Linked DNA regions of Homo sapiens: region 1 is linked to region 2. Evidence: fine-mapped expression QTL. A gene starts in region 2. The other region holds a variant in brackets. All regions are shown on one strand. Distances are between the middles of the regions.

Region 1 (5,387 bases), 400 kb before region 2:
TTTAGGTGGAGAACCCAAGCAGAACACAGTGGTCTCACCAAGTGAAGAAGAGAGATCAGAAACTGGGAAGGCTGACATAGCTGGAATATGCAGGACCAGAGAACAAGAGAGGAAGGAGGAAATCTGTTGCTGAATATTGATCTGCATATGTATAGGATAAAATTACATAAAGCCAGGCAAAAAATCTACTGTGGAGCTGTAAGCAGAACTACTGCATTTCAATCACCAGGCCATTCAGTAGAGACCCAAGAAGAATCATGCTTTTGCAGGAGGGCTGAGCAAGCTCTAGAATAAAGAATATTCTGGATTTACCCAAACAAAGCTCAAAAGCAAACATCAAAAGGATCAAGCAGATCTACAAGTTACTTGACACCCTTTAAAAAAATAAATCAAAATCCAGGCTCTCAACAAAGAAACATTCACAGTGTACAACATCCAATGAGAAATTACTACCAATGTGGAAAAGGAGGAGAATGTGATTCAAACAGGAGGAAGGCAAAGCCAAAGAAACAGACCCAGAAATAACAAAAATTATGGAATTAGCAGAAAATAATTTTCAAGTAGCTATTATAAATATATGCAAGAACTTTAAAGGAAAACATAATGAGAAGAAACATGATGACATTACATGTATATACACACATATTTATAATAGATGGAAACTGAGATCTATACAAAGAAAGGAAGTATGCCAGATAATGGTAAATATGTGGGTAAATACAAAATAATTTTGCTTGTTTTAAAATTTTTTAAAAAGATAATTGGCTCTTTGAAACAAAAATAATAACCATATATTGTGGGATTTATAACATATAAAGAAGTAGAAAGTATTAAAAAAAACAGCACAAAGAATGGAATGGGACAATGGAGGTAAACTGTTGTAAGGGTCTTACATTATACATAAAATGGTGCAATATTATTTGGCAATGTATTATGATAAATTAAAAACGCATTTTGTAAATCATAAAGCAACCACTAATTAAACAGAGCAAAGAAGTATAGCTAATAAGCTATTTATTAGAGATTAAGTGGAATACAATAAAACCCATGGTTATTCTAAAAGAAGGCATGAAAGGAGGATTAAACGGAAAAAAAACACACAGGACAAACAGAAAAACAGCAAGATGGTAGGCTTAAACCCAACGATATTGATAATTACATTAAATATAAATGATCTAAACAAGAAGTCACCAAACTTATGACCCACCTCCTGTGTTAGTAGATAAAGTTCTATTGGAACACAGTCACACCCATTTATTTATTACCTATGTCTGCTTTCACACTACAATGGTAGAAGTGAATAGTTGTAACACAGACTGTAAGATTTACTGTCTGACCCTTAACAGCGATAGTTGCCGACCCCCAACCCCCCCACCAAACTAAAGATTAGAATTTAAAAATGCAATGATTGTTAGACATTATAAGAAATCAAGATTAAACTACATGTGTTCTACAAGAAACAGATTTTAAAGACAGACGTACCTACATATGAAAAGTGAATAGATAGAAAAAGATTTACCATGCAAACACTGATCAGAAGACAGCTGGGGTAGCTAGATTAGTATCAGATAAAACAGACTTTGCATCAAAGAATATTTTTAAGAGATGGGTATCTCACTATGTTGCCCAGGCTGATCTCAAACTCCTAAGCTCAATGATTCTCCTGCCTCTGCCTCCTGAGTGGTTGGAATTACAGGCATGTGCCACCATGCCAGACTGGTCATAGAATATTATCAGGAATACAGAGGAACATTTGAAAATCATAAAATGCTCAATATATCAAGAAGATGTAACAATCATAAATGTCTATACACCTAAAACATAGTTTCAAAATAAATGAAGCAAAAATCTTACAAACTATTGGGTTGGTGCAAAAGTAATCGCAGCTTTTGCCATTAATAAGAACAGTAAACAAATCCACAATTCTAATGGGAGATATCGACGTAATTCTTTCAGTAATTCTTCAACAAGAAGGCAGCAAATAAGAATATAAAAAATGTGAAAAAACTATCCAACCAAAGGATAGTTGTGTCCTTTAATTTCATGAACATTAATGGAATACTAACCCCAAAATAGCAGAATATGCATTCTTCTCAAGTGCACATGTGCTAGACTATAAAAAAACCTTAACAAAAAACTAAAATCATATAA[G/A]GTGTGTTTTCTGTCCAAAATACAATTAAACTAGAAATCAGTATCAGAAAAGTATTTGTGAAACACCAAAATATTTGGAAATTAAATAATACCTTCTAAGTCATGAGTCACAAGATAAATAAGGAAATATTTAAAACTTCATAAGGAAAATAAAATGTATCATATGTCTGACAAAATTTATGGTAAAAAAAATGCTTGTTTTATAGCAGAAAAAAGATTTTTAATCAGTAATTTAAGTTTGTATCTTGAGAAGCTAGAAAAAATAAGAACAAATTAAAACAAAGTGAATAGAAAAAAAGAAACAAACAGAAGAGTGGGAATTAGCCGGGCGCAGTGGCTCACGCCTGTAATCCCAGCACTTTGGGAGGCCGAAGGGCGGGTGCATCATGAGGTCAGGAGATCGAGGTAATCCTGGCTAACACGGTGAAACCCCGTTTCTACTAAAATTACAAAAAAATTAGCCGGGCGTCAACGTGGGTGCCTGTAGTCCCAGCTACTCGGGAGGCTGAGGCAGGAGAATGGCATGAACCTGGGAGGCGGTGCTTGCAGTGAGCCGAGATTGCGCCACTGCACTCCAGCCTGGGCAACAGAGCGAGACTCCGTCTCAAAAAAAAAAGAAGAGTGGGAATCAATGTAATGCAAAATAGACAAACAATAGAGAAAATCATTTAAACTGTAAGCTTGTTCTTTAAAAAGATCAATACAATAAAGCCCTCATTAGGATTATCAAGGTAAAGAGACAAATTTTCAGTACGGAAAATGAAAAGAAGAGCCATTGTTACAGATCCTACAGATATTAAAAAGATAATAAGAAAATATTATGCATAATTTTATGCCAATAAATTTGAAAACTTTGTTATAAAAATTGAATTTTTCATTAAAAACTTTCCACAAAGACAACTCCATTCTAGATAGCTTCACAGTTGAATTCTATCAAGCATTAAGAAACAATTCTCTCCAGACTTCCAGAAAACAGAGGAGAAAGGAACACTTCTAAAGCCATTTCATGAAGCCAGGCTTAACCTGATACAAAAACCAGCAAAGAAATCACAAGAAAGACTCTAGAAAAATATCTCTCATGAACATAGGTCCAAATATTCTTAATAAAATATTAGCAAATCAATTCCAGCAATATATAAGAGTAATAATAGATCATGAAAAAGTGGTTTATATCCCAAGAATACTACATGGATTTTACATTTGAAAATCAATCAATTTATTTACTATATTAACAGGGAAAGGGAGGGCAAACCCCACCTAATCATGTCAATAGATTCAGACATCTTCAATACCCATTCATGACTAAAACTCTAATAAAAACTAGAAATAGAAGGGAACATCCTCAAACTGACAAAGGTCATTACATAAATCTTCTAGCTAACATTATATTTAATGGTTAAAAACAATAACAACAAGGAATGATTTGCCCTTATGATTGGTTGAAAACAAAAGGCTGCCTAGTCTCCTCATTTATTCAGCATTGTACTAAAGGTCATGAACTCTGTTATAAGGCAAGAAAAAAGAAATAAAGGGCATAAAGATTGGAAAGATAGAAGTAAAAGTGCCTTTGTTCGAGGATGACATGATAATCTATAGAGAAAATCCAAATGAATTTACAAAACAACTGTTAGAAGTAATATGTGAGTGAACCAGGTCTCAGGACATGAGGGCAATATAAAAAGAAATAAACTATATTATTCCCTAACAACAAAAAACTGGAAATTAAATTAAAATACAATAATATTTACAATAGCACCAAAAAGCATGATTAGATTTAACAGAACATGTGTGCAAGACCTATATACTGAAAATGAAACATTGGTGAAAAAATTTTAAAAAGACCTAAATAAATGTAGAGGTAAATCTTTTCATGTATTAGAAAATTCAGTATTTTTAAGATGTCAATTCTCCACAAATTAACCTATAGATTCCATATACTCTCTTTCTGTATAAAAAGATTTGTCTCAATTGACAAGTTCATGCTAATATGTATATAGAAATATAAAGGACCTAGAAAAGCAAAAATAATGTTGAAAAAGAACACATTCAGGGACTAATGCTTCTGGATTTCAAGACCCGCTGGGAAGCTCGATTACTCAACACAGTGTGGTGTTGGTTTAAGGACAGAAACCTAGATCAATGGGTGAGAACAGAAATAGACTCATCCATGTATGCTTAATTGATCTCTCACAAATGTGTCAGGGTAATTCAATGGAAGAAGTGATAGTCTTTTCAACAAGTAGTGTTAGAGCAATTGAATATTCATATGAAAAAATGGAACATCAACCCTTACTTTATACCTTATATAAAAATTAACTTAAAATTGACTGTATGTGTTTTTCAATTTTATTTTTGAATTTCATGTATCTTACATTTCTTATCATAGTTTTAAGTCTTAAGTCATTACTCTAAGTGTTAAATCAAAGGATAGGGTGTTATTCAAGTAAATAAATAATTGTTCTTCCCCAAATAGATTTGCCTGGTTGTCTCTCCCCCTCATAGGTATCAGTCGTAGTATGCACAATACACGTCTTTAATGACTATATTTTGCATTTGTATTTTACATTTAATAAATATATTTTATATTTTGTAGACCATATATTTAAACATAAAAATAAAGACTATAACTTCTTACATACTGAAAACTATCTTTGCAATATTGGAGCAGGTAAAATTTCTAAGATAGGACATGAAAGCACAAACCATTAAAAAATTAATAAATTGAATTTCATCAAAATTAAAAGGCACTTCAAAAAATGAAGACGCAAGCAGAAACTAGGAGAAAATATCCATAAAATATATCTGACAAAGACTTATATCCAGAATATATAAAGAACTCATAACTCAAAAAAAGGAAAAAAAAATTTTAAATGGGTAAAATATTTGTGTAGACACTTCACTACAAAAAAATCCATATGGATAAAATTAAAAAGACTGACAATACCAAGTATTGACAAGGATGTAGAGCAGCTGGAACTCTTCTATATTACTGATAGAAATATAAAATAATACATCCATTTTGGGAAATATTTTCATACTTTCTTTTTTTTCCAGCTTTGTTGAGGTATAACTCACAAATAAAATATTAAGTTTAAGGTGTACAATCTGATGATTCAACATACATAAACATTGTGAAATGAATACCACAATCAAGCTAATTTACATATCCATAACTTCCTACAGTTGCCTTTTTTGTATGTGGTGACAATAAGATCTATTCTCTTAACAAATTTCAA
Region 2 (5,387 bases):
TCCAATTATGAAATAAAACTTAAACTTCAAGTTAATTCACAAACTGCTCTTCAAGTATTCTCTACTTAGCAAAAGCACAATTCAATAAATAAAATCTCAGTCACACAACATGCCTAATAATGAGGGCTCCTTTGCATATCAGATATGCCGTGTACCTGTAGAATAACTTCATTAGTACCTAAAGGTCATCTGAATCAACAACCACCAATATTCACTGATACTAAATTGTGGGAAGAAATGTCTCATTTGCTGTCATATAAAACCAACATTACCTGAATAATCATAGGTGTCTACTTTTCAAGATGTGAAAAAAACTTCATATATTACCTTGATCAGTAATTCATAACCCTGGTTGCACATTAAAATAACTTCTGGTAATTCCTAAAATATACTGATGTCAACCTCATCAGAACTGGAGGAGGAGTGCATCAGTAGTGTACTAAAACTCCTCAGTGATCCTAATATGTAGCCAGGAATGAGAATTATCAATCTCTTAGATTAGAGATGCTCCTGAAGGTTACTCTATAAACCAATGGGATCAGTTCTCCCCTCCATATCTTTCCGTGCACAACAGTGGAAGGGAAAAATGAGTGCCACATATTTCAAATGATTTTTTAGCAAATTGATTCTGGAGCATGTATACATGGTAGAATCTCAAACTTCAAGCATAAGAAAATTCATAAACTCTATCGTTAATGCCCAGCTATGACGATGCTGCAGACTTGTGCAAAGAGTTAATAGACTGTACTACTAACAGGGGAGGGGGCAGCTCACCCAATAACAGATGTCTGATTACAGACGCAGTACAAGAGCGAAAAGTACAGACTTTAAAGCCGGTCAACCCGGGGCTCTGCCACACACTGTTTACCTAAACCTGGGTTTCCTCCCTGTAAAATGGGAATTCACATCTACTTCATAAGTAGATATTAACGAGCTAAAACACCTAACTTAGTACGTAGTTACGATGATGATGACTCAATTTATAATACTAAGCTAATTAATGTCTGTTGAGTTTAACTAAAAGCAGAGGACCTGGAGAAAAGACCGGTCTAGGTCACTGCCACTGGCCCGCAAGCTCCTTTTCACAAATGTCCCGATGATGACATGTCATGAGCAGAAGACCAGGCAATTTCAGGCCATAGGAGAGAAAGGATGCAGAGGACAGGACGAGACTTGTAATGCCAAAAGGGGCCCAGAGGCCGCGCATCCCACCTATCGAAGCCTGGGCCGCGGCGATGCCGCCAGGTCTCCAGGATGAACCGAAGGGAGGCCGATGGTGGAGAATAGAGCACGCAAGGTCCCTCACCTTCACTACAGCTGTCCCCCGGCTGCCCTGCCGGCCACTGTCTACTCCCGCTCCGAGCTTGTTTACAACCAGGGTAGCCATCCTCGCAGGGGAAGCGCCACAGAAACAGCCTTCAGAGTCCTCAACTGAGAGGCGGGGTTGAGCCACCTACCCAGAGGCCTCTGCGCACGCCACCGGCGCACAGGCGCAGTAGGACACTGGGCGCCGCTTAGCCGACTCTTACTCCTCCTCCCCGCAATCGTCGGGTGGTTAGTTGCACAGCCTCGCGCATGGGCACTTTTGTTATTTTTCATTATGTAGTCTGCAGCTGCTGGAGGAAAGACAAGAAAAAAAAAGAAGGGACAAAACGATTAAAGTTTTGGGGTGAAAACTCCAGATCCTTTAATGATTTTTCCTCTCGAATCCAAACCAGCCAGGGCGTGAACTGAGGGCGGTGAGGGGGTACGGGCATCTCCCTGCATGCAACGCGGTTTTTGTATAAACTACAAATCCCAGCATGCCACTCTCTCTCTCTCTCTTTTTTTTTTTTTTTTTTTTTTTTAAAAAAAAAACTCCGGCAACGTTGGCCTTTGGGAGGCCGCGTATTGTTACCTAGGGGTGGTTTCTTTTCCTGCAGTCGCGATGTGTGATTGCAGATGGAAAACAAAGTATTTTATGCCTACGTTTCTAAGATAGAAGAAATGGACTTGTTGAAAAGAAGCCAGTTTGTAAAGGACACAGTAGGAGAATTTAAGGTACCACCACCAGAGAGAGGTTGAGAGTGCGTTTGACTTTTGGTTTTGCCAAACGCGAGGTTTTCCGTTTCCTTCCGGGGCAAGTTGAACCTGTCCAGCCCCCGTAGGCTGTGGGTCAAAAGTGCCGGTCAAAATGGAAGTGAATCCCCCTAAACAGGAGCACCTGCTGGCGCTAAAAGGTAAACTTTTGCGAACCTGATTCCCCCTTTTCTGTTTCCTTGCATTCCCTACTTATCGAAGCCTTTGCCATGTAGGCCTCATCCTTCTTAAACACTCAGTGCTCGCCCTCCTGCTCTGTCCTTTGCCGCCAAGCGGGAGGAAGCGATTTCTCCTGGATGCTTTTTAGGTTTATGGGCCCCTTTCTAGAACGAAATAGATACCTGGTAAATCGTTCTTTCTGATCTGTGCTGCTTCAGTCACGAGATTTTAGCCGCAGAAGCTGACGTCCCGCTCCTACCGTGGAGATCTCTGTGAATTACAGCGGGCATCCAAAGTGCTTTTTCCTTCTGTCTCTTGTTTCTTCCTGTGGCACTGACGAAGTTAATCAGGCTTCAGCTTCCCCTGTAAAATTAGTATTGCATGACAGTAGTGCAGAGAATTTAGCAATACATAGTAATACAACATATAACTTAGATTTATTCAAAACAAACTGCAGTTTACTTCAAATCACTGTGTATGTGGGAAATATGTCCGAGATCTAATGTCAACTCTCATTTTTTGTACACAGCCATTTTGAGTAAGTTTGGTGATTTAATTAGATCATTATTTAGGAAAAAACAGCAGCACTTTTTTTTTTAGGACAATTTTTTTAATGCCTATTTTCTGGAAACCTTTTATTTGAAATCTTTTCAGCTTTATTTTATTTGTTTTTTACTACAACAAATGCGCTTTTTGTTTCTTGGATGCCTTAATATATGGTTAACAATGACTTCTTGAATGAGCTGAGGAAATGCTCAATAAACATTCGGGTTCAATTGAATTGCGCTTACTTTACTTATGGCATCCATTTTGAGGAACGCCTTATCCTTCCCATTATGATGTAGTCATCAGACTTTCTAGAAGCTCATCAGTCTCATATAATGATGCCTGTGTTAGCGAGATTGTCTCTTACTGTGGAACTTTGTAATGTTTAGTGATACAGTGATGGGACCTGTAAGCTTAACCTGAGCAAATGATCTAGACTAAAATGGAGATTAAAATGGATTGTTACTCGTGGAGAAGAGGGAAAAGAAGAAAAGCAACTAATTGTCGTGTTCTTTATCTCACAATCTCACTTCAAGTATGTGGAGTAAATATTAATTCTCAGAGTTTAAGTAACTTTTCCAAGATCACATAGCTAGTGATTGAGGCAGTGTTTCAACGCAAGGCCTGCCTCTCTTTCCAAGAGTCCGTGTTGCCTCCTAAAGAATGAAGCAGCATTCTCAGAGATAATTCCTCTACCAGCTACTCCGATGGGAATTTGGAACAGTTCTATTAACTGCTACGTGTGATTTATACAAATTAGAAGCTATTAAAAACAGTTAAATTGCAGCCGCGCGTGGTGGCTCACCCCTGTAATCCCAGCAGTTTGGGAGGCCAAGGCGGGTGATCACAAGGTCAAGAGATCAAGACCATCCTGGCTAACATAGTGAAACCCCGTCTCTATAAAAATACAAAAAGTTAGCCAGGCGTGGTGGCGGGCGCCTGTAGTCCCAGTTACTCAGGAGGCTGAGGCAGGAGAATGGCGTGAACCCGGGAGGCGGAGCTTGCAGTGATCCGAGATCACGCCACTGCACGCCATCCTAGGCAACAGAGCGAGACTCCATCTCAAAAAACAAACAAACAAAAAGTTAAATTCCAGTGATACAGAGACTGCCACTGGGAATTTTTAGTTTTCTGTTATTCTTTTTTTTCCAAAACCAAGGATACCTAAGAAAGAATATTTAAGCAGCCTAAGCCAGGCGTGGTGGCTCACGCCTGTAATAGCACTTTGGGAGGCCGAGGCTGGCAGATCACTTGAGATCAGGAGTTGACACCAGCCTGGCCAACATGGCGAAAACCCGTCTATACCAAAAATACAAAAATTAGCCAGGTGTGGTGGTGTAATCCCAGCTACTCGGGAGACTGAGGCAGGAGAACCGCTTGAACCTGGGAGGCAGAGGCTGCAGTGAGCTGAGATTGCGCCACTGCACTCCAGCCTGGGTGACAGAGTGAGACCCTGTCTCAAAAAAAAAAAAAAAAAAAAAAAAAAGAACAATAAGCAGCCTAAACGGACAAGTGCTTCAAAATTGACTGATAGTTTCAACTTTATTAAACCTCTTTAGTACCATCTTATAGTTAACCCATTGTTCTAGTTAATCAACAATTTTCACACATTTCAATGTGCTGATGCTGAATGCCAAATGTATTAATTTAAGTGGTCATTTAAGTTCACTTTATCTTTTAATATGTAAAATGTTAAAGATAATATCTTGTTATTCTTGGTTGGGTGAGGTGGCTGATCACTTGAGATCAGGAGTTCGAGACCAGCCTAGCCAACATTATGAAACCCCGTCTCTACTGAAAATACAAAAATTAGCCAGGCGTGATGGTGTGCACCAGTGGTCCCAGCTACTCAGGAGGCTGAGGCACAAGAATCACTTGACCCTGGGAGGCGAAGGTTGCTGTAAGCCGAGATTGTGCCACTGCACTCTAACCTGGGCAACAAAGACTCTGTCTCAAAAAAAAAAAAAAAGTCATCCCTTGAGTATAACACTGATTGACTTTAGACAACAAGAGAATTTCTCAGTGCCATATTTTACAATGTGAAAGTATAAGGAACAGGGAAGAAAAACATTAGTGCATCATTAGTTCTTGAAAGTATATATGATAACATTTAGATCCATATTTAAAATATGGATGTTAAAGATCACAATTATTTATGAATTTGAGAGTTGTCAGATCTGTTAGTGGGCAGTATCAGTAGGTAAAAATAATGAAATTATTTCTTCTAACTCTTCAGAATCAGACAGTGATTCTATTGTGAAATGATGACAAGAATCCATACTCATGGTTATCCTAGCAGTGGGAGAACCCTCATCAAGTAATTCTCTAATGATTTTTGGGGAGAAGGGATTCAACTTATTTTTTTCTGCTGTTGTTAGGATGTGAAAAAGTCTGTTTTATGGCTCTTACAGCTTTGGGCCTGATTAGCAAGCCTAACTTGCAGATATTGGAAGGCTCCATTCTTGAGCCTATGCACCATATGCTGGAATTTATTATCAGTGACTTAATTTGGGGCAACTTGAGGACTTCTGTGCTCTAAGAGAAAAAAATAGGAGTCTAGACTTCTTGTTCTCTTCCAAACTGGAATTCAAAAGCCATGGTAT

Direction of the effects. Alleles are on the strand shown, and positions count from the first base shown. SD is a standard deviation of normalised expression in the study named.
In carriers of allele A in region 1, the expression in adrenal gland of the gene that starts at base 2,140 in region 2 tends to be lower than with G alone (large effect, 0.84 SD a copy in GTEx).

The links. PIP is the estimated chance that this variant, and not a neighbour inherited with it, causes the effect. A credible set is the group of variants that fine-mapping cannot tell apart.
Region 1: its variant is the best candidate, but not a certain one, in a credible set for the expression of SHLD3 in adrenal gland (GTEx, PIP 0.61).

What each region holds. Positions count from the first base shown.
Region 1 is chr5:65,217,990-65,223,376 of GRCh38, forward strand. All of the region lies in intron 18 of ADAMTS6 (ADAM metallopeptidase with thrombospondin type 1 motif 6), which reads right to left. Among named protein-coding and RNA genes, the nearest start is that of ADAMTS6, 260 kb to the right of the region's middle. The variant G/A (reference allele first, on the strand shown) is at 2,152.
Region 2 is chr5:65,622,888-65,628,274 of GRCh38, forward strand. It overlaps SHLD3 (shieldin complex subunit 3), which reads left to right and starts at 2,140. Exons shown (of 2, transcript NM_001365341.2): 1 at 2,140-2,219. It overlaps TRIM23 (tripartite motif containing 23), which reads right to left and starts at 1,446. Exons shown (of 11, transcript NM_001656.4): 1 at 1,307-1,446. The coding sequence starts at 1,387. It overlaps TRAPPC13 (trafficking protein particle complex subunit 13), which reads left to right and starts at 2,140. Exons shown (of 13, transcript NM_024941.4): 1 at 2,140-2,219. The coding sequence starts at 2,174. RefSeq lists enhancers at 1,116-1,445, 1,576-1,655.